Regions from separate parts of the Homo sapiens genome. Here region 1 is linked to region 2. Evidence: fine-mapped expression QTL. A gene starts in region 2. The other region holds a variant in brackets. All regions are shown on one strand. Distances are from middle to middle.

Region 1 (5,378 bases), 46 kb before region 2:
TTAAAGCATTTTAGATTCACAGCAAAATTAAGAGGAAGATACAGAGATTTCCCATCTATTCCCTGCCCCAAACACACACAGCCTTCCCATTATTAACACTCCCCGCTCTGCCCCAGAGTGTTACAGTTGTTACAATTGATGAACCTACATTGACACATCATAATTACCTAGTTTACATTAGGGTTCATTCTTGTTGGTGTACTTTCTACGGGTTTGGGCAAATTTATAACGACATGTATCATCCACCGTTATTGTATCATACAGAGTAGTTTTATGGCTCTAAAAATCCTCTGTACTCAACTGTCAATAGCATACATTTATCAAAACACTAATACATCACTTTCTTCTTTAGTATCATAATCAACATTTAAGTCTTAGCCTGCTTTGTATTCTGCATCTGGAGATCCTTGGGAATAATACTGGATCATCAGTAGCTTTGCAAAACATCCTCGGTGGCACACTGCTTTCCATAACCAGGACTTGTGCCCTTGACCTCTAAAATACTTCAAAATATGAGTTCAAGGCCTGCACAAGAATCCTAAGTTTGCCTGCATTTTCTAGTTCCCCTTGAAGTTTCTTCTTTCTTTAGTGGGATTTCACATTACGGAAATTACATGACTTCTCCTGAAAGTCAACAGGAAGTTTTTGACAAACTGTCCATTACTCTAACTTTCTGAATTTTGGAAATTCCGGGATCTGTCCTGAGAGATTTGGCCATCTTTACTGCCATCAGTTCCACTGCCTGGTGTGTGCAAGCCATCTTCTGAAATTTCAATGCTACATCATTGTGTGACCTTTTTGAAGATATTAGGTAATAATTAAGATTCTAAATTTAAGTTAAAATGTAGTCATTCAGGCCAGGCGAGGTGGCTCACACCTGTAATCTCAGCAATTTGGGAGGCTGAGGCAGGTGGATTGCTTGACTTCAGGAGTTTGAGACCAGCCTGGGCAACATGGCAAAACCACATCTCTGAAAAAAGACAAAAATTCACCAGGCACAGTGGTGTGTGCCTGTAGTCCCAGCTACTTGGTAGGCAGAGGCAGGAGGATCACTTGAGTCTGGTAGGTCACGGCTGCAGTGAGGTGAGGTGAGATCATGCCACTGCACTCCAGCCTGGATGACAAAGTAAGACCCTGTCAAAAAAACAAAACAAAACAAAACAAAACAGTCATTCAAGATGCTGTCTAAACAAATAACTCAGTGAGGTGCACATGGGATAAGCAGATAAGCCAAGCCAGGCCAAGGTCACAGGTATACAGAGGCCAAGCTTTATTAAAACACACTTATTCCCTGTTCCCTGCCTGGACAGAAAACAGGACACATCAAAATACTGCCACTGTAGATCCCCAAGCCACAAACAAGCCATCAAGCTGCATCTCTGGCTCCCATTGCAATGCCTTGCTGGGGTTAGATGTTCTTTGTCAGTGGCCCGAGCCAACTTCCCTTTGCAAAGCAGTCACACCATGAAGCTGGCGGTACGAGACACCATGTGACCGGGGGCTTGTTTTATTTCCAAGCTGCCACTATCACGAGATCTGCCACTGTTGAATTGCTTCATCTCCTTCATCCCAACTTCGTGCTTTCATGTGAGTGTCACTGTCCTATCCTCCCCATTGTCTGCCAGAGTGCTGAGGAAGAAATGCTCCCTCCAGCTTTGAAGAGTCATTTCAGAAGGCATAGTCCACGGTTCCCCGAAAGCTGAAGGTGGAGGCATTTATAGACACATCCACTTGGCAGAGGGCCTTTGTTGTGGGCGAGGAGGAAGTGGTAACCCCCGGACGGCTGGGCCCCCTCCATGTGACTCGGCTATCACCTGCCATCAGCCAGTTGGCGGGAATGGGATGCAAACCACCATCCTTTGGGGGAGAAGCCAGGATACAACTTCCCGGCTGCAGCCTTATTTTGGTGTCACACTCCAGAGGCCTCCTGGCCGCAACCATAACCCATGTTATCCCAGCGGCTACACTTGGGTACCTCCCAGCATCGCTGGCGTTTCCCTCTTGCTTGTTTGACCTCTTGGAAATGTTCTTAAATACACTCTTGAACCCCAAGCAAGTCACCGAGTCTTGCTCTCTTTGTTTTTCTTTTATTACATGGCAGGGATATCATTAGTGTTAAAATTCTGAGTTTCTATTTCCTTAGAATCTTTCCTGAGATTCTACATTTCCTTAGAATGACCCAGTTTCAATGGTGGAAGGATGTTCGATATCATCTGATTTCCTAAGGGAAAATTTTCACAGGAAAAAGGCTGAAAACTCTATATAAAATTCTTAGAATTGGCAGCATAAATTTTAATGAGGAAGCAGCGCCTTGTGTAGACAGAACTTTCACCAGGAATAGCAAGGCCCCTGACTCTCAGGCTAACTGTGGGGCCGCGAGCTCTCTGCTCCTGTGTTAACTCA[ACTCAC/C]CCAAAAACTAGGAGGTGAGGCAGCCTAGCAGTCAGGAATGTGGGCTTCGGGGTCAGACCAATATGGGTTTAAGACATGGTTCAACCAGTTATAAACCATGTAAACTTGCATGAGTGACTTGACCTTGTTAAGGCCTTGGTTCCTTCATCTGTAAAGTGAGGACATAAGAATTTGCACAAGTTAGTTAACCCCCTTAAGTCTTCGGTTCCTGCAGATGTAGACTGATTGTACCTAACCTCTCTTTCTCTAGCTCTGTCTCTCTTGACTCTCATATAAACACACTTACGCATCTCCTATCTTAAAAATATAAGAAAGGCATCAGCAAATAAACTCCTCTTTGACCTTTGTCCCTCTCTAGCTACTGTCCCATCTCTCTGCATCCCTTCTGTCTAAACATCTGAGGAGAGGGTAGATACTTCCCATTCCTTTATCAGTTTCATCCAAAGACATTATAGCTTTTCACATTGGACTATTTCTAAAATTGGACTGTGTATCTTTTGCACTGGTAACAACTCCAAATTTCAGTGGCTTAAAACACAATGGCGGATTTCCTGCTCATGCAACATGCCTATCACAGTCCACCAGGATTCTGCTCTGTGTCATTCCCAGAAGATTACCAGTGACTGTGGCAGGAGAACAGAGCACCCTGGAGGGTCTCACAACACCCACTAAATGCTCTGGCCCTGGCCCAGAGTGGCACCTGCCACTATTCACAGCTCTTTGGCCAGAACCAACCAGAATTCCCCTGACCCCACCCAACTGTTAAGTGCAACCCCACAGTGCAGTATTTGGCAAACCACACAAATGGTCTTCAGCTACATTATTATAACAGCAAATAGACTGTAGACAATCAGCTGTGTTATAGCTTCAGTATGCTTTTGTGGGCTAGCTTGGAAACCTGACCACTATTCAAAACAGTGTTCCTATGAGAAAACACGTGCCAAAATCCAAGCTGCTGACTTATAAAACAAGCTGGAACACAATCTGTTAGTAAGTTGAGGCTTCTTATACTTAAGAAATTATTTTTGAAACATGGCCCCAGAATTTGACAGGCTGGATTGAATTATTCAGCCATAGCTATGAGATCCAGAACAAGCTACATAATTTGTGGGGCCCAATGGTGGGGAACCTTGTTCAAAAAGCAGGGGGAAAATGCAGTTAAAGTTACTAAAATATAAAGCTTTTTTCTTTCTCCAAAAGTCTCTCTCTTGATTTATCATAGTGATTTTATTTGCTATTTAGGCTGAGCATGGTGGCTAATGCCTGTAATCCCAACACTTTGGGAGGCCAAGGCAGGAGGATCGCTTCAGCCCAGGAGTTCAAGACCAGCCTGGGCAACATAGCAGGATCCTGTCTCAAATATTTTTTAACAAATAATATGATCAAAAAATTGCTATTTATTGTTGTTCTCAGTAAAGGTAAATTTTTAAATGATTAGAATGAACTGTTCTGTTCATTTTTATATTGTGCAATGCCAGGTTTAAATGCAAAGATAAGAGCATCTTACACACTTCCTATTTCAGAGTTGGTACATGCACATGTAGTTAATTCTTTTTAAGAGACAAGGTCTCACTCTGTTGCTCAGACTGGAGTGCAGTGGCACAATTTTGTCTCACTGCAGTCTCAGACTCCTGGGCTCAAACGATCCTCCTGCCTCAGCCTACTAAGCAGCTGGAACTACAGGCACCCACCACTGCACTGAGCCAGTTTTGTTTTGTTTTGTTTTGTTTTGTACAATCAGGGTCTTGCTTCGTTCCCCAGGCTGGTCTCGAACTCCTGGCTTCAAGCGATCCTCCCACTTCAGCCTCCCAAAGTGCTGATATTGTAGGTGTGAACCACTGAACCCAGCCTGTAGTTCATTTTTTTTTTTTTTTTTTTTTTTAGACAAAGTCCTGCTCTGTCACCTAGGCTGGAGTGCAGTGGCGCAATCTCGGCTCACTGCAAGCTCCACCTCCCAGGTTCACGCCATTCTCCTGCCTCAGCCTCCTGAGTAGCTGGGACTACAAGCGCCCACCATCACGCCCAGCTAGTTTTTTTGTATTTTTAGTAGAGACGGGGTTTCACCATGTTAGCCAGGATGGTCTCTATCTCCTGACCTCGTGATCTGCCCGCCTTGGCCTCCCAAAGTGCTGGGATTACAGGCGTGAGCCACCGTGCCTGGCCAGTTCATTCTTAACAGAACAGTGGAACTGCTGCACCAAACTAACTCAACTAATTTCAGCTCACTTCCTAATACAAATCAGAGAACTAACATTCTACTTTCAGCTTACTGACAAGGAAGGAAGGGGTAAAGGAAAAGGTACTATTGGTTGCAGTATCTTTCCCTCTCCTATGTCATTTTCAGTGTTAGTGGTTGGCTAATACAGAAAAGGAACAGGAGTAAGAGCAGATGATAGGATTCCTTGATCATTTGTGTTTCTGGCTTTATTTCTATGTTCAAAGCAAATTCTGATTCAGACAAAAAGCACGGGCTCTTAGCCTGTGACAGCCCCTGCTGACTCAGGCATAGGCATAACACCCTTACTTTTGTTAAAACAAAAAAAAGGAGACAAATTAAATTTGGCAGTGTTTATTTAAGCAAAGAACAATTCATGAATTGAGCAGCAGTCTGAACCAGGAGGGGTTCAGAGAGCTCCACCCAGCAGTGCAGGCAGGCAGTATCTACAGACAGAGAAAGAAAGTGATGTACAGAAACAGTAGATCGATTGCTTACAGCTCTGCATCGCGTTATATGGACATGGTCTGATCAGCCGGCAGCCTGTGATTGGCTGAAGTTTAGCTGCTGTGATTGGCTAAGACTTAGTTATTTGTTATAAGAATACACTCCTTAAGTTAGGTTACAATTTGTTTACTTACTAAGTTACACTGGAGTTTGCTATGTACAGATACAGCTTTAGGTCAAATTTAATTTAACACCTTGTACCTGCTTTGAGTCTCACTAAACTCCCACAGATTGTGGGTCCACTAGA
Region 2 (5,376 bases):
TTAAATATTAAGCAGGCAGCTCATGTACAAAGCTGGTTCATCAAAGATAAACAACAACAAAAAAATTTTTCATATACTTTCTATTAAGCAGGGCATTCTAAAAATTCTAAGACAATTCCGGCAAAACAATAATTGATAGAGCTATAATGAGATTTGTTCCAAGAGCTTAAATGTATAAATATGACCTTTAAATTTTTCAAGCATTAACAATATTTCCATCAAGTTCAAATACATTCAATCACACTTAAAATTATGATTATAATCCTTTTGATGATCCATGGCTTCTCTCTCATACATCAGTAATTATACTTTAATCCATTATCTACTTAGAAATTTCATAAATATTCAAGTTCTGTACCCCCAGGCGAAAATTCACTCAGGTACTAAGTTAAATTCTCAACAAAACAACAACAAAACATGTGTGTGTGTGTGTGTGTGTGTGTGTGTGTGTGTGTGTGTATATATAATAAAAACCAATCTGTGGATTTAATGGAGTTGATGGCATGTATTGGGAAAAAGACTACAAAGAAGATTTAACTATGATGCTCATGGAATTTACAATTTCAAAAGAAATTCATGAAGCATATTTACAAGGAACAAACATACGTGTACTCATCCATTCAAACCTTTCCTGAGCATCTGCTATGTTCTTGGCATGCAGGGAATGAAGAGGCAAATCAGACCCGATGTGTTGCCTGCTGTCAAGGAGATGTCATGACAGAATCTATGCGATATTTACAGTAATACCATGGGAGAAATTAATTGATTTCTGGAGAGGGCAAGGGAGTGGAATGAGAGAACAGAGCAGAAAAGGCTTCAAAGAGTATAGGCTTAAGTATTTTTAAGGAAAAAATTTCATCACAAGGATCACCTGTAAATCAGCTCGCTGGGAAATAAGTATTTATACTGAAGAACTAAATTCAAGTCAGAGCAGTGATAAGAGCAAACGAGATGGACAGATTGCTCCAGAAGACTGAGTTATGTATCCTACAAAGTTATGCTACAGGAAAAATGAAAAGGCTTCAGAGTCATAAGATCTCAGTTAAATACCAGTTTGGCTGCTACATTTGTGAAATTAGTTAATTTCATTTCTAAATAAAAAATGTTATAATGCCATTTACTTGACAATGAAGCAAAACTAAAAGAATTTTTAAGAACAACAGAAATTGGCAATACAGCCTGAGCAACATGGCAAAACCTTCTCTCCACAAAATTCAAACAAAAATTAGCCAGGTGTGGTGATGCGCTCCTGTAGTCCTAACTACTCAGGAGGCCGAGGTGGATCACCTGGGCCCCGGGAGTTTGAGGCTGCAGTGAGCGGAGATGACACCACTGCACTCCAGCCTGGGCGACAGACAGAGACCCTGTCTAGGAAAAGGAAAAGGAAGGAAGGAAAAAGAGAAAAAAGGAAAAAGAAATTGACAATCAAATATGAGCAGAAGCTGTATTTTTAGATCTAAAAAGTAAAATTCTCCAAGAATTTGGGGTTTTAGGGCTTACTGTATTTGTGTTTAAGAGCCTTTTCAGTTCATTTAACAGAATTTTAAAGCAAGATGTCTTTATTTAAAAATCATTTAGATTCATTTACTGAGGCTGAATATTTTCTTCTGAAGCTTAGTCACTATACTAGTTTTATTTAGAGGCCGATTACGTGTGCTTTCCAAATAAATAGCTTAATACCATTCATTCCCCGTGTGGTCGGGACCCAAAGAGATTATAATGAAGCCTTCGTTAATACTGAATTAACGTGAAGACCCCACGAGCTGCCAGAGTATTTAAAAAAAGTAAATGCTCAAAACGCGGTAGGCATTCACCCTTAAGAAACTAAAGGGAGGGGAAAAAAACTTCAAACTGTCAAGATCACTTCTTATTCTTAAGAGAACACATGCCTTTAAGACTCTCAAAGTTTCTGTCTAAATCTTTCTTTAATGAGTCTCTTCAGCAACGTACTACACAACACGACAAAGAAGGCATTTATCAACAACGCGTTTTGTGAGTCTATGAATTACCGAGGAGGGCTTAGGTGTCTGTAACCTTCATACCCACTTCCACCGCACACTCAAGTTATTGCTGGAATGTACGGAGAGCACACAAGGCTATTCAAGCAACACCGGCAGCGCGCTCTCGGCCTTCAATCACATTTTTAAAAAGAAAAATAAATTCGTCAAAGGATCATAAAACTTGAAAAGGCTCCAAATAAATAAACCATCGCTTCTATCAGAGCAAGTTCTGCGGGGCCATTTTCGTCTCCCAAGTGACATACAAATATGTAGTTCAGGTCATAAGGTCCCCGACACGCAGACCCTGCAAACTTTTCGGCCAGAAATTTGTCGCGACCCTGAGACGCCCCCGGCCGTGTCCAGGACCCCCGTCCTCAGGCCCCACAACTTCTCGCCCGGCCTCGGGGCTCCTTCCCGCGTCCGCCGGCCCCCGCCCCGCAGACCCGTGGACCGGACCCTACCCGGCGGCCCCCGTCCCCCCGCGGCGGCGGCGGCGTCCTACGGGCGGGCGCGGCTCGCTCCCGGGCTGGCGGGACGGCGGCGGCAACTGGCCCGCGGGCCGGCCCCGGCGCGAGGGGAGCGGCCGGGAGCGCCCCGTTTCTCACAGACCCCAACATGGCGTCGGCCGCCACCGCCCGCGACGACGACACCTCCCGGCGCTGCGACGGCTCCGGGACCGCGGGAGGAAGCGCCCGGAAAGTTTCGCGTCTCCCCTCCCGGCCCGTCAGGAGCCGGCGGACCACCCACCCGGGCTTCACCTACCCCGACGGCCGCGGGCGGCGGCGGCGGCGACAGCGAAGGCGAAGGTCCGATCCTCCTGGTCGCGGACGCAGGGCGCGGACTCTGCCCGTTCCCCGCCGGGGCCTTCCAGGGTGTGTGCTGTCCGCAGCCCCGCGCAGCCGGCGCGATCCAGACGCGGTGGGCGGGCTGGCCGCCAGCGCAGCCGCTCGCAGGTGACTCCCCCGCCCCTCCAGTCGAACCCGACAACGGCTGCCTGGGCTGGCCTCTCCCCTGCGCGCGCACGGGCGCGCCCCCGTCCACACTCCGGGCGCGAGCGCGCGGGCACGAGCACACCCACACCCCTCGCTCCCCGCCCTTTCTTGCCAGTTCCCTCGCCCCGCCCCTCGCGCCCCTCGCGACGCGCTCTAGGGGCGGGGCCTTTGGCGGAGGCCACACCCACTCAGGCCGGCCGCGGGCGGAGCTTGTCCATGTGTGAGGTCGGGACGCGCTCCCGCGACGCGTTGAGGTGCACGTGAGGCGCCTTACCTGACTTTCCTGACTCCGACCAGCCCTTAGAAAGTATTGCTCAACTGTCTACGAAGTTCTTAGGGAGACTGGAATAATAGAAGGAAGACACCTCCCCACCCACAACAGGCCTCCCCGGGGAACTGAAGAACGAGAAAGGCAGGCTTTGGATCTAAATGCCCAAAGGCATCGGTACTGGCATTTGCTGCTCCCATTTAGCACAGCAATCCTTTCCGTCACACTTTCCCTTTGCTTTACCTAAAATCCCTCCTCTTGAAACCAAGGGAACTGCGGCGACACACACATACCCTACGTGCTCCACCCAGCCCTTTCTTTTAAATGCATACTTTAGAATTCTGGTCTTCCCAAAACTTTGACGACACAAAACCCCATCAGCCTACTTCACATACCTAGAAACTGTAATTATTGCATAGTATATAAGGTTAAATGTGCCCTAATTGATCTGATAGCTAAGCGCTCTGATGGGTTCGTAGAGAGGTAACGAAGTTGCTTAGGGTAGACTAGGGATGGGGGCGAAGTAGGGAGAACAGCATACTTATTTTAAACAAAGTGTGTGTGGTGTGTAGGAGGAAATTGGGTTTTGGTAAATTTTATATTTCTTATTCATCTATTACTTCAGTAAGTTGTTTTAACCTGTGTTTGATTGCTGTTGAATTAGAGTCACTACCAGCCAAGCTGCACGTGGATGAGCACCTAGGGATGAGAGCAGACTTGGGTTCCGCCCTGCTCTTCCACCTGGGATCTTCCTCCTCCAGGCTTGTTGCCTCCTATCCTCCCCTATTTCAATAGAGTTTGTCTCTGAAACAAACAAGTCTTTTTTTAAATTAATAATTAGAACAAAATTGGCAAAGATGAACTTTTTTTAAATGGGGAAAATTGTATGATCACACACACACAATCTTTCGTGTGTTAGAGTTGTCTCTAGATGAGTACAGATGTCACCAGGACGCTTGTCCGTACCATCACTCTACCTCATTCACCTCTACGTGCACAGCAATATCTATCAGTGGGGAAAAGGCAGGACTAAATAATGCCTAAAATCCTTTTAAATTTTGAAAGTAGGAATTGCTATGTCTGACTGGTTGTCTAAGGTCAAGCCTAGAGCATTAGTTATCAAATATTTTTGGTCACTCACATTAGTAAAAATGTTTGCCCTCCTCACTTCCCATGTACTTATTTAGCTTAAGTAAAGTGCATAGATAGAAGCCAGAATGACTGTAATCAAACATTGGCTTTGTCTCTAACAACCTTGGCACATCCAAAGATAACTTTGGTTTTTTCACTTGTAAAATGGAGATAATAAAAGTATATCACAGAGTCATTATGCAGATGAAATGAATTAATATATGTAAAGCATATACCTGGCACACAGTGCTTTACAAGTGTGAAATAAAATTATTACATACATAATATACACATTTATATAGTGCTACGTAAGTGTGAAATAAAAGTTGTTACATATGTAATATACCCAGCTACTCAGGAGGCTGAGGCTGGAGGATCACTTGAGGCCAGGAGTTTGAATCCAGCCTGGGCAGCATAGCAAGACCCAGTCACACATACACACAGAATTATATGTATGATATATATAGTGTGTATTTATATACACACATACACCTATTATAATATACCTAGTATGTTAGGTACATTAAAAAACAACATACACACACAAAAAAATCAGAAATAATGATTTTAAATATATATATGTATGTTTTCTTTCTGTACTCTTCATAGTCTATGCCCTCCCTGGGCTGCGTGCACCCCAGTTTGGAGACCGTTGATTTAGATCTGTGCTAACAAATACAGTAGCCACTAACCACATGTCTTAATTAAATGTAAATTTATTTAAATTAAAAATTTAGTTTCTCAGTCACACTGACCACATTTCAAGTGCTTAATAGCCACATGACTATTGGACAGTGCACATATAAAACATTTCCATCATTGCAGAAGTTCTATTGGATAGCACTGACCAATCTGGAACAAAGCAGGGAACTCAAAAGTCACTGAAAGGAAGTAAGATTCACTCCTACCCGAACCTGTAATTGTGGTACCCTGTTCAAGTCAAGTGATAAGACAGCTCTTTGAGCCTCACATCTCAACCGTAAAA

Alleles and levels. Positions count from the first base shown, and alleles are read on the strand shown. Sizes are in standard deviations (SD) of each study's normalised expression.
For the expression in monocytes after Pam3CSK4 of the gene that starts at base 3,008 in region 2, C is the low allele of the variant in region 1 and ACTCAC is the other (moderate effect, 0.50 SD a copy in Quach 2016).

Evidence for each region. PIP is the estimated chance that this variant, and not a neighbour inherited with it, causes the effect. A credible set is the group of variants that fine-mapping cannot tell apart.
Region 1: its variant is the best candidate, but not a certain one, in a credible set for the expression of PLEKHF2 in monocytes after Pam3CSK4 (Quach 2016, PIP 0.76).

The regions. Positions count from the first base shown.
Region 1 is chr8:95,177,768-95,183,145 of GRCh38, reverse strand. LOC124901982 (a long non-coding RNA gene) reads right to left here. Exons shown (of 2, transcript XR_007061015.1): 2 at 1-1,134. Among named protein-coding and RNA genes, the nearest start is that of LINC01298, 36 kb to the left of the region's middle. RefSeq lists an enhancer at 1,714-1,813. The variant ACTCAC/C (reference allele first, on the strand shown) is at 2,404.
Region 2 is chr8:95,131,417-95,136,792 of GRCh38, reverse strand. PLEKHF2 (pleckstrin homology and FYVE domain containing 2) reads right to left here and starts at 3,008. Exons shown (of 2, transcript NM_024613.4): 1 at 2,763-3,008. RefSeq lists silencers at 2,447-2,606, 2,627-3,266.